Homo sapiens: one gene and its partners. The protein of the gene in region 3 purifies or fractionates together with the protein of the main gene of each other region. This does not show direct contact. Each region holds a gene or a part of one and is shown on either strand. Other genes may lie near its edges. The genes, in order: NIPSNAP2, RAB3D, SLC13A5, ZNF609, ZFC3H1 and MTUS1.

Region 1 (3,500 bases), on a different chromosome or scaffold from region 3:
TTATCCTCTGGAAAGTGCCCCCTACCATCTTGGCGATTGTCACTGTCAGTTAAGAACCCAGGCCCAAGCCAGATCTTATCATTTGGGCAGCCGTTGGCATAGCTGCGACTCGAATGACTAGATAGGTTGGGCATGTTAGGCAGCTTTGGTCACCTGACACTCAAAGATTTCAGTTTGACGGTTGGGGGTAGTACTGGCCGGCTTGTTTTTCATTTGTCAAGACGATTGCTGCCCAAGTTCACAAGCAAATGCCACTCAGGTTCTTTTGTGTGTGCTGTGTTGATTTAGTCTCACCCCCTGCTCTGCATTTTTCGATTACTAGCATTGTCACATCCCTTACCTCATTGTACCCACCCAAAGGGGAATCCCTTTGGTATTATTATTTGTTTGTTTGTTTTAGAGGTGGTCTTGCTCTGTTGCCCGGGCTGGAGTACAGTGCATGATCATAGCTCACTACAGCATTGAACTTGTGGGCTCAAGCGATCCTCCTGCCTCAGGTTCCTGGGTAGCTAGGACCATAAGCACGAGCCACCATGCCCAGCTACTCTTTTTATTTTTTTTTGTAGAGACAGGGTCTTCCTATGCTGCCCAGGCTGACTTTGGTGTTTCTGAGATATGAAATAAATGCTCAGTTGGGGTGATTTTTATTTCAAAGGCATCCTTTATCAGTGAAAATATTATCTGTCTATAAATATACATAATATATGTTTGCCTCTGTATTTCTGGAAGGATATACATAAAACTATTAGTAGTCATTGCTTTAGTATTTCTTATTTTAAGTGAAACTCCCTAGTCAGTATTTTTAGACACTTTTTATTATATCCCTTTCTTAATTGTTCATAATTGTTATTCCTAAGCTTTTACAATTTATTTAACAAAAAAAATTGTAGACACAATTTCTGTTTAATGAACTTAAAATCTAAAATAAACACAGAAATTGGCTGGGCACAGTGGCTCACACCTATAATTCCAGCACTTTGGGAGGCCGAGGCAGGTGGATCACCTGAGGTCAGGGGTTCAAGACCAGCCTGGCCAACATGGTGAAAACCCACCTCTACTAAAAATACAAAAATTAGATGGGTGTGGTGGTGGGTGCCGCTAGTCTCAACTGCTTAGGAGGCTGAGGCAGGAGAATCACTTGAACCCAGGAGGCGGAGGTTGCAGTGAGCTGAGATTGTGCCACTATTGCCCTCCAGCCTGGGCAACAGAGCAAGACTCTGTCTCAAAAAAAAAAAAGAACATACAGAAATTACATAGTCCCATAAACAAATCTTAAAACTTTCTACTTTGTGTATCACTAATTTTATATGGTTGCCTTAAAGTAATGCGTAAGTTTCTTTTTTCTTTTTCTTTTTTTTTTTTTTTGAGACAGAGTTTCACTCTTGTTGCCCAGGCTGGAGTGTAGTGGCGTGATCTCGGCCCACTACACCCTGCACCTCCCGGGTTCAAGCGATTCTCCTGCCTCAGCCTCCTGAGTAGCTGGGATTACAGGCATGCGCCACCATGCCTGGCTAATTTTATATTTTTAGTAGAGACGGGGTTTCTGCATGTTGGTCAGTCTGGTTTCCCGACCTCAGGTGATCCACCCGCCTCCTTGGCCTCCCAAAGTGCTGGGATTACAAGCATGAGCCACTGTGCCCAGCCCATGATATTATTAAACAGATATCCCTAAATGTAGTGTACGTAAAACACTTCAAACTAATTGACAAAATGTGCTTTCATTTTTATTGGAATATGGCTGGGTGTGGTGGTTCACGCCTATAATCCCAGGACTTTGGGAAGCTGAGGCAGGCAGGTCACTTGAGCTCAGAAATTCAAGACCAACCTGGGCAGCATGGTGAAACCCTGTCTCTACAAAAAAATACAAAAATTAGTTGGATGTGGTGCTGGGCACCTGTAGTCCCAGCTACTTGGGAGGGGTTGAGACAGGAGGATAGCTTGAACCCGGGAGGTCGAGGCTACAGTGAGCCAAGATCACGCCACTGCACTCCAGCCTGAGTGACAAAGTGAGACCCTGTCTCAAAGAAAAAAAAAATACAGAAGAGAAAAGCACAATATAGACATTATATGGAGAAAGCTGTGTGTCTTTCCCCTCTATCCCTTTAAACCATTTTCTCAGGGAAACCACCATTAATGCTTTCTTAATTTTTAGGAATTTTTATATATAGTAAACACAAATTGGAAGCATCTTCAACTTACATCTGCAAATGCCACTTAATACTATATGTTTTTATCTTTCAAGAAAAATTGCATTTACTGGTATTGTTATTTTGCTTGTTTAAAGTGAGTTTGCTTCTTTTTAATCTTTGAAGGATGTGAAAACGTGCTTTTATATTTCTTTATAATTATTTATAGAGCACATTTTATTTTTAATTTATTTTATTTTATTTTATTATTATTACTTTTTTTGAGATTGAGTCTTGCTGTGTAGCCCAGGCTGGAGTGCAGTGGCACGACTTGGCTCACTGCAATCTCCACCTCCTGGGTTCAAGCGATTCTCCTACCTCAGCCTCCTGAGTAGCTGGGATCACAGGCGTGTGCCACCACACCCAGCTATTTTTTTTTTTTTTTGTAGTGTTAGTAGAGACAAGATTTCACCATGTTGGCCAGGCTGGTCTTGAACTCCTGACCTCAGGTGATCCACCTGCCTCGGCCTCCCAGAGAGCTGGGATTTAGAAGCGTGAGCCACCACTCCCGGCCAATATATTTGTATTTGTAAGTTCACATCATTCAAAAATCTTTATATCTGGTTTCTACCTATTTGAGACAATATCCTATGAATTGGTTTTTAAATTAAAAGAACATCATATTGGGGAGAAGATTGCTCTGTAATGTTTGTTCAAGAAAGCAGCAAACTAGGCTGAGTGCGGCAGCTCACCCTTGCAATCTCAGCACTCTGGGAGGCTGAGGCTGGCGGATCACTTAAGGCCAGGAATTCGAGACCAACCTGGCCAACATGATGAAACCCTGTCCCTACTAAAAATACAAAGATTAGCCGGATGTGGTGGCATGCACCTGTAGTCCCAGATAGTCAGGAGGCTGAGGTGGGAGAATTGCTGGAACCTGGGAGGCAGAGGTTGCAGTGAGCCGAGATTGCACTACTGCACTCCAGCAAGTGCAATGAGACCCTGCCTCAAAAATAAATAAATAAAGCAGCAAACTGATTTTTTAAGCAAAAAAAAAGAAAGAAAGAAAGAAAGAAAAAGGCTGCCAGTATCATGTGAAATTTAGAGCCCTACTTCTAAAATACCGTTGCTGCATAAGAATAGGAATTTCTATTATTGTAGTATGAAATCCATGTGTTCATTTCATGAAGTACTGGGGAATTTGCTCTCATGAGAGTTTTTCTTGTCCCTTGTTTAAATTCCTGGTCCCCCTTTTTAATACCTGGAGTTGCTCTTTCTTTTCCTCTTAATGTTTACCTGGTGGTATCTGGGTGCTTAAGCAAGTCTACCAAGCAGATTAGAAATACTATTGTAGAAGGCTGGGCGCAGTGGCTC
Region 2 (4,288 bases), on a different chromosome or scaffold from region 3:
TTTTTTTTGTGGCCAGCTAATTTTCAAAAAAATTTTTTGTAGAGTTGGGATCTCTATGTTGCCTAGGCTGGCCTTGAACTCCTGAGCTCAAGGAATCCTCCTGCCTCAGCCTCCCAAAGGGCTGGGATTACAGGCATCAGACACTGTGCCCAGCCTCATTTATTTTTTAATTTTTTTTTTTTTTTTTTTGAGACAGAGTCTCACTCCATCGTCTAGGCTGGAGTGCAGTGGCGCGATCTCGGCTCACTGCAACCTCCACCTCCTGGGTTCAAGCGATTCTCCTGCCTCAGCCTCCCAAGTAGTTGGGATTACAGGTGTGCACCACCATGCTCGGCTAATTTTTGTATATTTATTTATTTATTTGAGACAGAGTTTCGCTCTTTTTGCCCAGGCTGGAGTGCAGTGGCGTGATCTCGGCTCACTGCAACCTCCGCCTTCCGGGTTCAAGCAATTCTCCTGCCTCAGCTTCCAGAGTAACTGGGATTACAGGCATGCGTCACCACGCCTGGCTAATTTTGTATTTTTTAGTAGAGACAGGGTTTCTTCACGTTGGCCAGGCTAGTCTCGAACTCCCGACCTCAGGTGATCTGCCCACCTCGGCCTCCCAAAGTGCTGAGATTACAGGTGTGAGCCACCGTGCCCAGCCCCTAATATTTGTATTTTTTTTTTTTTTTTTTTAGTAGAGATGAGGTTTCACCATGTTGGCCAGGCTGGTCTTAAATTCCTGACCTCAAGTGATCCGCCTGCCTTGGCCTCCCAAAGTACTGGGATTACAGGCATAAGCCACCGCGCCCAGCTCTCGTTTATTTTTATTTATTTGAAACAGGGTCTTGCTCTGTTGCCCAGGCTGGAGTGCTGTGGTGCAATCAAGGCTCACTGCAGCCTCGATGTCTCCAGCAATCCTCCTGCCTCAGCCTCCCAAGTAGCTGGGGTTACAGACGCACGCCACCACACCTGGCTAATTTTTGTTATTTTTAGTAGAGATGAGGTCTCCTTACGATGCCCAAGCTGGTCTCAAACTCCTGGCCTCAAGTGATTCTCCTGCCTCGGCCTCCCAAACTGCTGTAATTACAGGCCACCGCGCCTGGCCTAGCCTACTTTAAGGCCGGCACTGCACTTGACAAACACTAACTCAGATCAGAATCCTCCCACAACTCTGTGAGGTTGGGTACTCTCGCTATGAGCTACTTGACGGATGGGGAAACTGAGGCTCAAAGAGGTTAAGTAACGCGTCCAAAGCCACAAGACTAGAAAGTGGTGGAGCTGGGACTCGAACCAGGCCCAAGACTCTATGCTTTTAACAGCCGTGCGTATAGTAGAAGCTCTTTACAAGCAGCTGGGAAAATGAGATGTTGCTTGGCTAGGACGGGCTCTAGACGCTTGGTGCAGCTTCCAGCCCCTCCCACCCGCTCTCTGAAAGCCCCGCCCAAGACTCGGCCCCTCTTCGTCCTCCCCCATCCCCCGCTCCGGGAACGGCCCTTCCTCCGCCTTCTGGGCGGAGCCCGCGCGGGATCCGGGTGGCTGCAGGCTGCTGGCTTCTGCGGCTGCGGGGTCGGGGTCGCGGCCAGGGCCAAGCCGCAGCGAGTTCACAGGCGGAACCCCTGCAGGCGGCGCCCCCTACGCGAGGTCACCCCTGGGAAGGAGCGCAGCCCACCCGGCCCCTCCGCATCCGAGCAGGTCTGTGGGGTACGGGGGTTTGGGAGGAAGGTAGGGGGTCTGGGGAACAAAGGCGGGGCTGCGGGGAACGCCTCTGCCCTCGCCCCCACCCAGCTGGGCACTTGGGAAGCGCTGATGGGGCGCGGGCGGGGCAGAGAGCCCAGCTGGGGACAGGCGTTGGGACCATATGGTGATGGGGGAAACTCCTGAGTCCACCTGCATTGGCTGGGGCGCCCCAAATCTAGTGAAGGGGAACAGAGGCGAGCCCTCCGGGGCCAGGCTTGAGGGAGGGTCGGCAGATGGTTAGAAAGAGGCGGGACCGACTGACACAGGTGAGCTAAGGCTGGGGGAGGTGGGGGCCCCAGCCTTGCGGCCCTGCCCTGCGTGGGGAAAGGTTTCCTGCCTCTTCTCTTCCCCTCCTTAAACTCGTTCTCCTGGAACACGGGGTGGGGCCGGTTGGGTCCTGGTTTAAAATGGAAAAAAGCCCCAAAGGCAGTTGAGAAATAGCTGTGCCAGGGCTGTCTCTGCCTCTGCCCCGCCTGCATCCAGGCCTTCTGCAGCCTCTCCGTGCGGTTCCCGCAGCGGCCATAGACAGCTGGGGAAACTGAGGCCTGGGAGAGGTTATGAGGGTTGAGGGAGCACCTTGGACTCGGATGAAGCAGCATGTTGGAGTGTGGGCAGATTCAAGGAGCCTAGCCGTGGGACAGATTGCCTGGAAAGACCAAGGGTGGGCGGCAGTGGTCGTGGTGGTGGGGTTGTGTTAATTAAGTGGCTGGGATCGTTTCCTTGGGTATAAGGACTCTCACTCCTGCCTCCGTGGACTGGGGCTGGAGTGAGTCAGCCTTGGGCAGAAGGAGACAGGCCTGGCCCCTTTGACAAATAGAAAATAGCAGTACCCATTTAGGGGGTAGAACTGGACTCTAAACCTGGGCCCTGTACATAGAAAACCCCTTCCCCTTGGAACTCAGAGAAGGGGTTGTATTTGGCATGAGTTGGTGGGCGGCAGGCGCCCCAGTGGCTGACACCTGCCAAAGTCAACACCCAAGCCTTAATCAGGGGCTCTATCCAGCTTATCCAGCTGGCAGGTCCTCCCCCCACCCCACCCCAGCTTACACCTGGGCCACACCGGCTGCACACGCTGGGGCGAAGTCCACACCTGTGCCTTCTCCAGAATCTAGTTCTGCAGGGGCCAGAGCCCCTTACCCTCGGCCTTGCACTTGAACCCTTTGCTAGGCCTCTGGGTTTCCAGATAGGAAAGGTCTCCCCACCCTCCACCCCAATACAGACTCAGTTACGCCACAGGGTGTGAAGATTAAACAGCAGTCACATTTTTTGTGCCCCAGCTCTATACCAGGCACTGTCTAATGACCGTTACGTGTGTTAATACCTTCCCACTGGAAGGAACGTGACCACCCGAGGATGGACTTTTTCTTGTCCTATTCACAGCTGCATTTCCACAGAGAACAGGGCCCGGCAGAGAGTAAGCATTTGTTGAATGAATAAAGAAACACATTTTAGGTCGGGCGTGGTGGCTCATGCCTGTAATCCTAGCACATTGGAAGGCTGAGGCAGGAGGATTGCTTGAGCAGAGGAGTTTGAAACCAGCATGGGCAACATAATGAGACCCCATCTCTACAAAAAAATTTTTTTTAAATTAGCCTGATGTGGTGGCATGTCTGTAGTCCCAGCTACTTGGGAGGCTGAGGCAGGAGGATCACTCGAGCCCAGGAGGTCAAGACTGCAGTGAGCTATGATCACGCCACTGCGCTCCAGCCTCAGGCAACAGAGCGAGATCTTGTCTCTAAAAAAAAAAAAAAAGAAAGAAAGAAACTCATTTTAGGCTCACAACCAACTACTCTTTCAGGAAGGGACTGTGACAAACATCCCATTTTTTAGAAGAGGACACTGAGGTCTAGAGGGGGCAAGCGATGCATCCAGCATCACTTGGTCTCCGAGTGACCGAGCTGAGATTTGAATCCAGGCCTGGTGCATTCACAGGAGCTGTTCTTGATGTTTGATTCCCCTGCAGGACGCCCGTCTCCTCTCCCTGAGGATTTCAGGTCTCCCTGTCCCAGGAGGCTTGTGCCAAGATGGCATCAGCTGGAGACACCCAGGCAGGCCCACGGGATGCAGCAGATCAGAACTTCGACTATATGTTCAAACTGCTACTGATAGGCAACAGCAGTGTGGGCAAGACTTCCTTCCTGTTCCGATACGCGGACGACTCCTTCACTCCCGCCTTCGTCAGTACTGTGGGCATCGATTTCAAGGTCAAGACCGTCTACCGCCATGACAAGAGGATCAAGCTGCAGATCTGGGTAGGCTGGGAGGCTGGCTGTGGGTTGGGGGTGGGGTCCCTCCAGGAAAGTTCATTGGAGGGTTCTTTTTTTTTTTTTGAGACGGAGTCTCACTCTGTTGCCCAGGCTGGAGGGCAGTGGCGGGATCTCGGCTCACTGCAACCTCCATCTCCTGGGTTCAAGCGATTCTCCTGCCTCGACCTTTTTTTTTTTTTTTTCTCTCGAGACAGAGTCTTGCTCTGTCGCCCAGGCTGGAGCACAATGGCACAATGTTGGCTCACTGCAACCTCCGTCTCCTGGGTTCAAGCAATTCTTCTGCCTCAGTCTCCCGAGTA
Region 3 (2,575 bases):
AAGGTGATGGTCATTGAGCTGGGCTGCAGAGGAGTGTGAGGTGCAGACACCATGAGGTACCCACAGCCAGGAAAACGAGGATGGTCGGGGAGACGCGCCAGCGAAGAGCTGGGCCCCTGCGTGGGACCCCTCAGTGGTTCCCAGGGGGCGTGGGACTTGCGCAGTCCTTTCAGAGGGCTGTTTACCAACAGGAACCGTAACATTAAACCTGCTCAGACCCCTTGACTCAGCAATTTCATGTCTGGGAATATATCTTAGGAAAATAATCAGAGATGCCTACCAACATATGTGATGATGATGTATGACAGAATTATTATACAAATATATCCATAGTAACAGGGGGTTTGCTGAAATAAATTATCATATATTCATATAATATGACATTATCAGGCCATTAAAAATCACAGTTTCAAAGAGTAATAAAATGGGAACATGCTCATAGTATAGTTTTTTAAAATTGCAGATGGTATATGGCTAAAAATGTCTAATAATGCAAAGATGTATACAGACCTTAATCCTCTAGCCTCCTCCCTAGAGATGACCTCTGTTAATTTCTCAAATATTTTTCTGGATATTTTACACACTCACACACTTTTTTTGAGACAGAGTTTCACTCTTGTCACCCAGGCTGGAGTGCAATGGTGTGATCTTGGCTCACTGCAACCTCCACCTCCCGGGTTCAAGAGATTCTCCTGCCTCAGCCTCCCGAGTAGCTGGGATTACAGGTGCCTGCCACCTTGCCTGGCTAATTTTTTGTATTTTTAGTAGAGACGGGGTTTCACCACATTGGTCAGGCTGGTCTCAAACTCCTGACCTCAGGTGATCCGCCTGCCTTGGCCTCCCAAAGTGCTGGGATTACAGGCGTGAGCCACTGCGCCCGGCCATTCATCTTAATTTTTAAAAAATCTAACCATGAAGCCTTGGTTATCTTGGAGAGCTTTCCTGATTAGCACAAAAAGAAAAAAAAATCCAATTCTTTACAGCTGCATACTATTCCATTATTTGTATGTGTCATATTTTATTTAACCATCCTGCTATTAGTGACCATTGAGTTGGCTTCCTGTGTTTTGCCGTTACATGGTTGCAACAAACATGTTTGCATGTGTCTGCCCTCATGTGCATGATACATGATTGATTTGATAGATTTTAGGAATTACATCATTCATTCATACACTCAGCAAATATTTAATGAGTGCCTACTCTCTGATAGGTGCTGTTGGATGTGGCTAAATTTTAAAGTGTAGAATTTAAAAGGTGGCTACCAAATTCCATGTGCAAAATGACCCCACGCATGTATAAAAACACACACATCCACAGATTTATATGCGGGAGAGAAGATGTGGTCCCTGGCCTCTAGGCTCTCTCAGTCTGTGGCAAGACAGACAGACATGTGCACGCGGCACTGTAAGGTTGAGCACAGTCTAAGTACTCAGCATGGTCTCTGGCACATAGTAGGTGCCCAAGAAATACATGTCGAATGAATTGAGGGGGTAAGGCCTTCTAGGGCAGGTGGCCTCTGACCTCAGCCTTCAGTGTTCCGTAGGTGGAATTATCTGCCAGAGACGTGGCAAAAGGGAGAGGAACCAAGACTGAGGCACAGAGGTTCAAACGTACCCGGCACATTCAGAGAATCCTTTTCAGAATCACGTCCCCAAGAGCTTCTGTGTTCTGTACGGTGATGTTGCAGTGCTGTTTTTCCGCAGTCTCGCTCCATCGGCCTCAATCCGCTGTACATCATGCTGCCCTGTACCCTGAGTGCCTCCTTTGCCTTCATGTTGCCTGTGGCCACCCCTCCAAATGCCATCGTGTTCACCTATGGGCACCTCAAGGTTGCTGACATGGTAACACAGCTGTTTTTATTTACTCCCGTCGGACTATAACGCTGTTGTCATAAGGGATGCCCCATTTATGAATGACAGAGTTTCAAAACGATGTCATGTGACTTGGGAATGCCACGGAACATCCAGACCTGTAGCCATTGTTGACATTTATAATGCAGCTTTTCTTCTTTTTCTGAGATGATCTCAAGCCTCACACACTGTTCTTTCTCTGAGGTGGGTTATAGACTCTCCCACCTGGAGAAGCCTGTGCAGGCACCAGGGGAGTCCTTGGAAGGGGTGAAGGTGGGGCTGAGGGACTCATATGGCCAAGGATGAACTTGACAAATTAGCAAGAACCATGAAGATAGGCAGGGCAGGCTTAGGCAGCAGGGGGATGCTAATGACAGTCACAGAGATTTGTAGGGGTGCCTGAAGAGGTAGAAGCAGGGAGAGGGAGAGAGAGAGCACTGCCTGGGAGTAGATGATGCCTTGGAAACAAATGTAGTCAGAGGAAGAACTCTTCATTAGCTCTGTCACCTTTGCTGGGAGAAGGGCAGCTTTGCAGCTCTGGGCTGGGAAAGAGGCAAGTGTTTGAGCCCAAGAGGCCAGAAATGTACCTGGGACCAATCGGGTGTTCGTTATCTCAGAGCCTCTGCTGGGTATCTCAGGGACTCCATGAGCATTTTCAAAAAAAAAGGTGGGTCCCAGAAACCATGGACTGCAAACTTGACTCCAATCCCCAGTAAAATATCTAC
Region 4 (3,500 bases), on a different chromosome or scaffold from region 3:
AAAAACATAAAAATAAAAAAAATTACGACTGGGCGCAGTGGCTCACGCCTTAATCCAGGTACTTTGGGAGGCCGAGGTGGGTGGATCACAAGGTCAGGAGATCAAGACCATCCTGGCTAACATGGTGAAACCCCGTCTCTACTAAAAATACAAAAAATTAGCCAGGTGTGGTGGCGTGCACCTGTAATCCCAGCTACTCGGGAGGCTGAGGCAGGAGAATCGTGTGAACCTGGGAGGCAGAGGTTGCAGTGAGCTGAGATTGCGCCAGTGCATTCCAGCCTGGGTGACAGTGCCAGACTCCATCTCAAAATAAATAAATAAATAAATAAAATAAAATAAAAATTGGCTGGGTGCAGTGGCTCATGCCTGTAATCCCAGCACTCTGGGAGGCTGAGGCAGGTGGATTACTTGAGGTCAGGAGTTCCAGACCAGCCTGACCAAGATGGTGAAGCCCCATCTCTACTAAAAATACAAAAAAAATTAGCTGGGCATGGTGGCGTGTGCCTGTAATCTCAGCTACTCGGGAGGCTGAGGCAGGAGAATTGCTTGAACCTGGGAGGCGGAGGTTGTAGTGAGCCAAGATTGCACCACTGCACTCTAGCCTGGGCAACAGAGTGAGACTCCATCTCAAAAAAAATAATAATACTAAAATAAAATAAAAAACATTAAAATAGTTTACAAAGGTAAAGAATCCTTAAAATTATACATCTCTCCTGCTAATCTCAATTCCGTTGAACCCCTGTATAAGGACAGCCCTTATTTGTGAGGAAGATAGACGATTACCATACGGTATTTCCACTTCCTCCCAGGGCAACAGTTACCTGTCGGTACCAGAGTATTGGATCCATCTCTGCCTGTCGACCACACTCAGCACCTGTCTTGGCCTCAGAGGCCTCCTTGCTTAGGTGGCTGGCATCACTCAGCTTCACTTTAAGGCCTTCAGGGGCCTGGCCCGGGAGTTTTGAAGAGTCATCTAACTTGGGAATGATGACTGATTTGGCTGGGTCAGCCCCTGGCTCCTTGGCCTTGCCAGGTCCTGATTTCACCAGGTCTGTCAGGCTGGGGGCCTTGGTGAGAGTTGGTGGAATTGACGGCTTTTGCTTCCACTCTTCCTTGAGTGCTGCCTCCCGCTCCTTCAGGCCCATCTCTGCCTTCTTGTCCACTCCCCGCTGCTGCTGCTCTAAGCTCTGGCGTTTCTGCTGTTCTTCGTACTGCTGCCGGTAAGCCGTGTTAGTGCTCAGAAGGTGGGTGTGGTAACTCTGGTCGCTGTAGCCATAGGGGGGTACATAGGCATACTGGTTGTAGTACAGGGACTGCATGTACATATTGGGACGCTGCTGGATGACCGAGGGCTGCTGACTGGAACTGCTCAGCTCGGGCTTCTTTTCTTCACAGATATCGTTCTTCACTTTCCCTTCTATGCTCTCAGGTTCCTCATCCCTTTTTGTCTTCAGGGCCTGGCTCTCCACTCCTGCCTGGCTGCTGGGGTTCAGAGCCCCAGGGCTGGACTGTGCATAACTTGGAGAATAGTAACTCTCAAAGCCTTGGTAATATGGTGAGTCTTTGCTCTGAGGCTGAGGGGGAAAAAGAGTTTTCTTAGCCCCTTCTTTAACCAACTGTTCGGCGTCCTTTGATTTGACACTGTCTACCTTGCCCTCCCCATCCTCCCCAGCATCAGAGATGTCAGAGTATGCAGGGCTGTTGGTTTTGACTGAGCTGGCTTCAGCTCCATTCTGGGTCACCACATGTAAGGGAGTCAGGGGCTGAGTAGGGGTAGTGTTTTCAAGGCGGCTACTGCCTCCAATGGAAGGGCTGGGGGCATTGTCCGTGAAACTGTAGATCTTGTCGGCTTCAGCCTTGATGCTAGCCAGTCGGCTTTGGTGGGGGTCTGATGAGCCATTTAGGAGCCCCTCCATTTTCATCCCATCTCCTGAAGATTCCCTGAATGGGCTTTTGCCTTCCTCTGCTCGACACACCTTCCCAGGGGTCAGAGGACTTTCAAGTTCCTTTGAAGATTCCTTCTTTTTTTTGTCTTTCTTTTTCTTGTCCTTGGCTGGAGTCAAGGCAGGGTTGACTGTGAAAGGTTCTCCCATAACAGTGGGCTTGGGCTGAATGGGCTTGAGTTGGGGACTGTTGGGCATGGCTTGTGCCACTGTGGCGGTCAAGCCTGAGGAAGAGCCTGGGCTCGCTGCTGTGAAGGTGGCTGTCTGGAAGGTGTAGATTTGCTGTGGGGGGATGGCAGGGGCAATGGGACGGGCTGACTTTAGGCTCTTGGAAGGAATCTTTTCAGGTTTTAAACTAGAGGGTTTTTTACATTTTTCTTTTTCCATACACTTCCTTTCTAAAGAATCAAAGGCATCATTGCTTGTTTCATCCATCACTGAGGGTCCATCATCAGAGCCATCATTGGATAAGGCCCCAAGGTCTGTGTCCCCTTCCCCACTCAACTTTTTCTTACAGAGGCCTTTTGTGCTGAATTTGCTTGAAGGAGAAGGGCTATGGGGCTCTACAAGTCGAACTTTGGGGGTAGCTGAGCGGGCAGGGGACAAGGAACCTTTTTGTGAGACAGATGCACCGTTGCAGCTCCCAAGATCTGCATGGAGAATAGGTTCCTCTCCGTACTCACTGTCCCCATCCGCTTCCGGCTTGCTGTCATCATCTGTATGGGCATGAGCTTGGTGGTACTTAAGTCCATTGATGTGCTTGTACTTCTTGTTGCAGTTTGGGTGGGGACAGTCAATTAGGACGGGGGAGGGGCAGTTTCTGTCCAGAACAGTGGGTTCTACCTTTGTCCCAGGAAGGGGGCCAGTGGCTGAGCCCATGGAATTAGTACGGACACGCTTGCTCCCTTTGGAGTCCTCTGAGCTAGAATTCAGCTCCATGTCTGAAAGGGGTTTGTTTTTCCGCTTATTAGCTGAGGAAGGGCTGGCCTTGACATCCTCAGAAGTGCTGCTGGCAGGTGGGCGGTGCTCTGAAGAATTCTGGCTGCCCCGACGGCCTTTGCTATTGGCTCCTGCCCGGGTTTTGCTGCTGTTACTGGTCCCTTTGCTGTCAGAGGCTGTGGCTGTCTCATTGACAGGTGTATTACTGTTGGGACGCATGCGTTTGCCTCTACCCCGGCCATTGCGCATTTCCAGGTCACTGGTCGGGGAGTCACAGAACCTTGGCAAAGGATAAACACAACAGAATATTATTAAGAAGAGAAAACATCTTCAAAGCAGTTTAGCTGTAGCCTCCAGAACTGTCCAGATGGTGACTATCATTTTCAATGAATATGATTTGTTAAAAGAAATTCTGATTGTGAATTGCACTAAATGGTGAACTCCTGGGATACACGTTAGCTGCAAATTATTCCCAAACATTTACCTCTAAAACCATGCAGAATCTGTTCCGTAAGATAGTCAAGTCAACATTTCCTATATACAGCCATAGTCATGGTTTCAGAAAAGATGTTAGAGATCATACAGGAAATTGAGGCCAGGCATGCTAAATGACTTGTC
Region 5 (3,500 bases), on a different chromosome or scaffold from region 3:
AAATTTAACAAAAAAACTTAGATTATAGATGAATTTTCTCCCTTTTTAATTTTTCAAGAAAAATGAATCGATATTTTTAAATTACTAAATTCCATTTAATGTATGTGCAGCTAATGCCCACTTTCATTACGTGCCCATATTTGAATTTAGTAAGTACCATATAAACAGTCCACTTACAAAATCACTAGTGTCATAATTACCAGTAGTATCCACAGACAGTCCACCTAGTTAGGTTATAGCATCATTCCTTCTGTGCCAGGAAAGTCCATAATTAGCTGTATGTTAGAGATTATTTTCTGAAGGAAGAGGGGAGAAACTGAATGCTTTGTCACAGATGCGGATAGTTTACACTTCAGGGGGCCAGGCGCGGTGGCTCACGCCTGTAATCCCAGCACTTTGGGAGGCCGAGGCAGGAGGATCACTTGAGGTCAGGAGTTTGAGACCAGCCTGGCCAACACAGTGAAACCCCATCTCTACTAAAAATTAAAAAATTAGCCAGGCGTGGTGGTGCAGGCCTGTAGTCCCAGGTACTTGAGACGCTGAGGCAAGAGAATTGCTTGAACTCAGGAGGCGGAGGTTGCAGGGAGCCAAGATCACACCACTGCACTCCAGCCTGGGCAACAGAGGGAGACCTCATCTCAAAAAAAAGAAAAAAAAAAACACTTTAAAATAGTACTCAAAATATATCTATTTTTCTCCTACAGACAAGGGAAAATGTTATGAAAATAATCTGAAGCAACTGTTCTTACTTTCTTCTCTAACACAGTGATACACAAAAGGTAACTTTTTCCTTAGAAACAGCTACAAAATTTCAAACTACAATTTTTATTCTAAACAATTCATACACGAGAATTGTTATACCTCATTTTTCCAGGCCAGATATTAGCAAGAGAAAAGACAGTACCTCCTGTGGTTTTAATACATCATTTATAGATTTTTTTTTTTTTTTTTTTTTTTTGAGACAGAGTCTCGCACTGTCAGCCAGTCTGGAGTGCAGTGGTGCGATCTCGGCTCACTGCAACCTCCGTCTCCCAGGCTCAAGCAATTCTCCTGTCTCAGCCTCCTGAGTAGCTTGGATTACAGGTGCGTGCCACCATGCCCAGCTAATTTTTGTATTTTTAGTAGAGATGGAGTTTCACCATGTTGACAAGGCTGGTCTTGAAATCCTGACCTCAGGTAATCCGCCCACCTTGACCTCCCAAAGTGCCGGGATTACAGGTGTGAGCCACTGCACCCAGCCTATAGATTATTTTCAGTTGGCTAGGATGTAAAATACAGTACCCCAAATACGGTTCTTCTGTTTAAACACCTCACAGGGCAAGCAGCAGAAAAGGTTTTTAAACTCTCCTGATGACCAGTTCTAAAAATGAGAATTACCATCATCTAAGAAACAAAAATAAGCAATAAGTACATCTGAAAATCTTAACAGTTCTACAGCAAAACTGTTCTAGTAAATCTCTGGTTCTCTGATCTCTTCAAAGCCAAGTATCCTGAAAGAAAACTAGTTTCTCTGTACCCTTCTTACCAAATGGAATCTGGTTTCTGTCCCATTAATCTAGAGAGACTGCTGTGGCTAAGTTTCCCTATCAATGTTTTCAAACTTTATTTTTTTTTACCTGACCCCTCTGAGAATCTGACACCATAAACCACTTCTCTCTTGGCTTCCATAACTCCGCATCTCCCTTTGTTTCCCTATTTGTGTTTTGTCTTTTAAGTCTCCATTGAGTCTTTTCTCTCTAACTTGTGAAATAATGGTGCTCTTCAGGGAGCACTACTTAGCCTCTTTCTCATTTTGAGCATTCTAATGCACCTCCACAGTTTTACCTACCACAGGAGAGTTTACCCTGGTGATAAGATATTTCTCTTATCTCCTACAAGCCATCCTTCATACTGCTGCTGCCAGAGTAATCTTTCTAGAATACAAATATAAGATCATTCCCCTTGTTTAAATTTCCCTAATAAAAAAGTCCAAAATCCTGAGAATAAATATAATCTGACCTGTGCTTTCCTTTCCAAACTTACTTTTTCCTTGTTCATCACAATTTTTGCATAGCTTTGTGTCTAAGTTTGTCTGTTCTTCAACTTAACCCCAATTCAAGTGTCACCTCTGTGAAGCCTGAGTTTCTCACTCTCCCTTCCCCTCTTACACACTCTTTGTATGTAAGTTCTGTAATTATCTGCATTTACATCTTACTTTTCACTGGAGCCATTTAAAGGCACAACTGCAATTAAAAAAAAAAGAAAAGAAAGGGAAATGATTAAATACACTAACAAAAATGCTAAATAGAAAAATAAGGAAAAGCAATTGAGTTACAACTATAACTGACTAATCTCCTTCAAGGCTAAAGAAAATCTATCCCTATCTATACAGAAGCCTAAGATCAAACCAACACTTACCAGATTTAATTTTAAGCTTGTCAAGATACAATTTCTAACTGAACCTTGGTTTAAACAAAAAGAAGTGCTATTCAACCTTTTCAGCTGCAGCTGAAAATGGAATGACTTTTTACTGATGAGAGACACTAGCCTAATTATGTTAGCTCTCCTCAGATTTGAAAGTTTAAAAGAGTAGTCATTCAAGGGAGACATGCTAAGATGTACTGACAAAGTGTCTATCATTAAGAAAAATTAAGGGTGAAAATAAGAACTGCAATTGAATCTAGTTTATTCTATTTCTTTAAAGTTGCAACTAGCATATCTTAGTTATTACAGTGAAAGGAGTTATGGCAAAAATAGAAATAAACCCTATACTCAGGCTACTTTACTTCTAAATTACAGAAATATGCCACAGAGTAACCTGCATTCTTTCTTTATACAGTATTTGTAAAATAAAAAAGGTATTATTATAATCACATAGTGGAAATATGAATTAAACTGAGTACAACCTTGATATTAAATAAATTTGAATGAAGTGTTGTAACAAATATTTTGTTTGCTCACATTATATAAAAGTAGCTGGGAACTACGTTTTCCTTCTCAAATTCTTAAAAAGAACACCACCTCTAGGATGGATTACTGATACTTCATAGGGAAAACAATGAGCAGGACATCAAAACAAGCATCCTTTTAAGTGCAGCATCTGTGAAAAGAAAAACAACAAGATATCTTATTTATGACAAGTTACTACGGAAATCAAAGTCACACAAGCAGACTGGATATTTTCTGGTACTTTTTTTTTTTTGCAACATCATATGCCAGTTTACTAATAAAAACATGCAAGCTTACCAATTAATAAAGGTCTATGGTAGAGGCCCAAAATAGTATTGAATAAACACGCAGAAAGAGGACAAAAGCAGAAAGCCCACTCACCTCCCCCTTTTCTAATACAGAATAAAAATTTTAAGAAAAACCTTTGAGCTCCCATAGTACTTTTTTATATACATACTTCAGTTTCAACTTTTTATACTAAACTGCAACTACTTATTTTCATTTGTTTCCCTAATACAAACTACAGGTTTCATCTTTGTACCTTTAAAAAACACATATAAACTGGTGGCTCT
Region 6 (3,500 bases), on a different chromosome or scaffold from region 3:
GCTGGTGGGTCAGGATAGGGTAGAAGGATATTGGAGAATGAGAAATGGATTTAAAAGGGCTGAGCCATGCCAAGACCTAGCTACCAAGAAAAATTCACGTGTTGTATTAGATCCCCAATCTAGGCCCCACATACAGAACCAAGTCATTTATACGTAGTGTATAGTTAGGCTTATATTTCATGTAAAATGATAAATAAAAAGCATGAGTAAAAATCCTTGCTGTTAGAATATTATGTTTGATTTTTTTTTCTTTTATCTTTTTTTTTGAGACAGAGTTTTGCTCTTGTTGCCCAGGCTGGAGTGCAGTGGCGTGATCTTGGCTCACTGCAGTGTCCGCCTCCTGGGTTCAAGCGATTCTCCTGCCTCAGCTTTCTGAGTAGCTGGGATTACAGGCATGCACCACCACGCCCGTCTTCATTTTTTATTTTTAGTAGAGACAGGGTTTCACCATGTTGATCAGGCTGGTCTCGAACTCCTGACCTCAGGTGATCCACCGGCCTTGGCCTCCCAAAGTGCTGGGACTACAGACGTGAGCCACTGTGCCCGGCCTGTGTTTGGTTTTCCTCAGCCTCAGCCATTTTTGAGCACTTTCTATGGGCCAAACACTGAGGTAGAAGAGAAAAAAAAGAATTTGACCTCTTTTCTTGGAGGAGTCAGAGAAACCCCAATCATTGTGAAAAGTGCAGTTTTGGAGATGTTAGTAAGTGTTTGTGTTGTTCGAAATATTCTCCCAGGTTGTTAACGTTGGGCTTTGCATTAAAAATTCCACCTGCTGACTTGACCAAAGTTTGGTCACGTAGGTTGTATTGACATTCTTGGTTATATAAAGCATCCTTGTCATTAATCATGCTTACCCTTTTCCTTCTCACCAAAAGGATTAAGAAGGAAAATACTTAGCACTGTACTCTTTGGCGTCTCTTAATTTCTCTCAATGAGAATCTTTAGTTACCTTTTCCAGTATATTTTTGCTACATCTTGTAAGCTCCTTAAGGATAGGGTCTAAATGTTCGGATGCTGGGTACATTTTTACTTTTATAATTATTTCTCCCAGATGTGGTCTGGAATAAATCATCTAGAGCTCTGATGGCATGGGAATTTGAAATTCTTTTGTCAGATAGTCACAGCTACTGGAAGGTCTTTTAAACCACAGGTATTAATTTCCTTATTGCTTTTCTGTGCCTTGCTCCTTGCCCTCTCCTCTTGCCCTCACCCCCTCATCCATTGTTTCATACTCAGCAAGCAGAGGGAAGGTAGTTTACCCTCAGTCTTGTGTCCGACTGAACGGCCATGGCTTTGGGAGCAGAGCATCAGAGCTGGAAGGTGCCAAGTTTCCTGATGCTTCTGAGTTACTGTTTTATTATGAAGAGTCAGTTTGAGAACATCTGGCATACCCATGTGCAAATACATGTACGTAATTGATTCCACTCATGATTTATGACATTCCCTATTCGTGCAGACAATCGCAAGTTGACAATTTCTTTTGACTAGGGACTTGGGCTGTTTTCTGTTTAGAGAAAAATGTATGTACAACTTAGGAATTCAGATAACTTTGCAGTCTAGGATTCTTTTTTCTCATTACATCTAATAAGATTTGTGTTTCAGAGTAGTTTTGCATTTATGTAAAACTTTTCAATAGTTCTCTAGACTTGCTGGTTATTGAACTTGATTTAATGCTGTGAAGAAGTATTTTCTGTTTAAGGGTTAAAAAATTGTTTTGCTTTCAGATTTTTTTTGAGACAGAGTCTTGCTGTGTCACAGGCTGGAGGACAGTGGTGTGATCTCGGCTCACTGCAACCTCCGCCTCCCAGGTTTAAGTGATTCTCATGCCATAGCCTTCTGAGTACCTGGCACTACAGGTATGCGCCACCGCGCCTGGATAATTTTTGTATTTTTGGTAGAGACAGAATTTCCCCATGTTGGCCAGGCTGGTGGCAATCTCCTGGCCTCAGGCGATCTGTCCACCTTGTCCTTCCAAAGTGCTGGGATTACAGGCGTAAGCCACCATGCCCAGCCTTCTGATGTTGCTTTATAGTGTTTTTGATGGCACCTCTGCAAAGGGATTTACTTACTCTTAATTTGAATTTAAAAGAGTAGGGTCAGTTAATGAAAAGGGAGGTAAGAAAAATCCTACATTTCTGTTTCTATGAGAAAACCTAAACCATTTTATATTGCAGATAAGACTATTTTGTTGGAAAGTTCTGGTTACAGCTTATTAGGCTGAACATTTAAAAATGTATAACCTTGTAGATATATAATCAAATGAAAACTATTTTCTCCTTATATGGTGTGAGTTGTTTTGATCTTGAATGATTAGCCCTCCATCCTTCAGTGCTAGGGACTGCTTTTCTTCTCTCCTTCCTCCTGTTTTTATTGAATTTCAAATAATAAATAGAGGTATTTCACCATTTAGCTAGATTTTGCCCACCATGACATCCATTATGAAACCCTGGGGACATACTTTATTATAGAATTGGAAAAATGTAATGGGTATCCAGGACATTTGGTGCAGTAATGTCATAGAGAGTGCACAGACTTAACAGGCAAAATTGGGTTCATGTCTGAGATTTTCCTATTAGCCATGTGACCTTGAGTGAAATTTCATTACCTTTGCTCCCCAGTTGGCTCATCAGGACGCTGGAAGGTGGGGGTAGTACCTTGTCTCCTGGGGTTATTCTGACACAGGTGCCAGGTATATAGAAAATGATCAATGGGTGCTAATAACCTTCCTTAGTCTCTAGTTTTAAATTAAATCTTCTGATTCATAGATAGGTGTTTCATTTAATTTCTGCTGCTTAGCCTTGGAGGTGTTGCTTGGATCTGCTGGTGCTGTCGGTTGGGAGTTAAATTCTAGGCTCAGGAGGCTGATAACTTTCCCTCTTCCTTAGGAGGAATTGATTTGTAGCAAACATTGGAGATTGTTTATTCTCAGACTCCAGCTTTGTCACCTCTTGTTTTTCTTGAAAGTTTAAGTCTAGTGAGCTGCTGATACTCCATTTGAACTGTGTTTTCAAAAAATCAATGTAGATACTTTTATCTTTGGTAAAGTCTGTAAATTATGTTGCCTCTTTGCTATCAGTCAGCACATTCGAAAGACAATTGAGTCATCACTTTGAACTAATCTTGGACTTGTGGATATTACAGTACTAAGGTTCCCTGTTCTGATTTTTCACCTGTAACATAGTCCAGAATATTTGTATTTTAGAGTTTCAATTGTAAAATGTTACTATTAATATACAGTATTTAAATATAAAAGCAATTTTGTATTTTCATCTTTTAAGCATAGTGAAATATTAATTCCCTATGTTTGTGGCAAGCACATTGTAAATATGATATTAAGAACTGATCACATCAGCCCTGCGGTTGGGCAGAGCAGGTCATGAGTGCTTTCTTTTATACTGAAGGAGACTGGGGACCAGAACTATTTGGATAAATGTTTTGTCTTATGGCGAGTAAGTTATGGAACTGGGACTGGACTTGTACCGGTCCATTTCCCACACCCA

What was found.
Region 1: the proteins of SLC13A5 (region 3) and NIPSNAP2 purify together in Homo sapiens (affinity purification with mass spectrometry; one large-scale study listed by BioGRID and IntAct). This does not show direct contact.
Region 2: the proteins of SLC13A5 (region 3) and RAB3D purify together in Homo sapiens (affinity purification with mass spectrometry; one large-scale study listed by BioGRID and IntAct). This does not show direct contact.
Region 4: the proteins of SLC13A5 (region 3) and ZNF609 purify together in Homo sapiens (affinity purification with mass spectrometry; one large-scale study listed by BioGRID and IntAct). This does not show direct contact.
Region 5: the proteins of SLC13A5 (region 3) and ZFC3H1 purify together in Homo sapiens (affinity purification with mass spectrometry; one large-scale study listed by BioGRID and IntAct). This does not show direct contact.
Region 6: the proteins of SLC13A5 (region 3) and MTUS1 purify together in Homo sapiens (affinity purification with mass spectrometry; one large-scale study listed by BioGRID and IntAct). This does not show direct contact.

What each region holds. Positions count from the first base shown.
Region 1 is NC_000007.14:55,971,085-55,974,584, forward strand, and holds part of NIPSNAP2 (protein NipSnap homolog 2), read left to right. Parts: intron 1-3,500. UniProt on the Homo sapiens protein: Protein involved in mitophagy by facilitating recruitment of the autophagy machinery required for clearance of damaged mitochondria.
Region 2 is NC_000019.10:11,336,858-11,341,145, reverse strand, and holds the start of RAB3D (ras-related protein Rab-3D), read left to right. Parts: upstream 1-1,488; 5' UTR 1,489-1,677; intron 1,678-3,685; 5' UTR 3,686-3,746; coding exon 3,747-3,974; intron 3,975-4,288. UniProt on the Homo sapiens protein: The small GTPases Rab are key regulators of intracellular membrane trafficking, from the formation of transport vesicles to their fusion with membranes.
Region 3 is NC_000017.11:6,686,795-6,689,369, reverse strand, and holds part of SLC13A5 (Na(+)/citrate cotransporter), read left to right. Parts: intron 1-1,533; coding exon of another isoform or gene 1,534-1,593; exon of another isoform or gene 1,594-1,703; coding exon 1,704-1,841; exon of another isoform or gene 1,842-2,017; intron 2,018-2,575. UniProt on the Homo sapiens protein: High-affinity sodium/citrate cotransporter that mediates the entry of citrate into cells, which is a critical participant of biochemical pathways.
Region 4 is NC_000015.10:64,673,578-64,677,077, reverse strand, and holds part of ZNF609 (zinc finger protein 609), read right to left. Parts: intron 3,163-3,500; coding exon 822-3,162; intron 1-821. UniProt on the Homo sapiens protein: Transcription factor, which activates RAG1, and possibly RAG2, transcription. Through the regulation of RAG1/2 expression, may regulate thymocyte maturation.
Region 5 is NC_000012.12:71,657,349-71,660,848, forward strand, and holds part of ZFC3H1 (zinc finger C3H1 domain-containing protein), read right to left. Parts: exon of another isoform or gene 3,023-3,500; intron 1-3,022. UniProt on the Homo sapiens protein: Subunit of the trimeric poly(A) tail exosome targeting (PAXT) complex, a complex that directs a subset of long and polyadenylated poly(A) RNAs for exosomal degradation. The RNA exosome is fundamental for the degradation of RNA in eukaryotic nuclei.
Region 6 is NC_000008.11:17,791,095-17,794,594, reverse strand, and holds part of MTUS1 (microtubule-associated tumor suppressor 1), read left to right. Parts: intron 1-3,500. UniProt on the Homo sapiens protein: Cooperates with AGTR2 to inhibit ERK2 activation and cell proliferation. May be required for AGTR2 cell surface expression. Together with PTPN6, induces UBE2V2 expression upon angiotensin-II stimulation.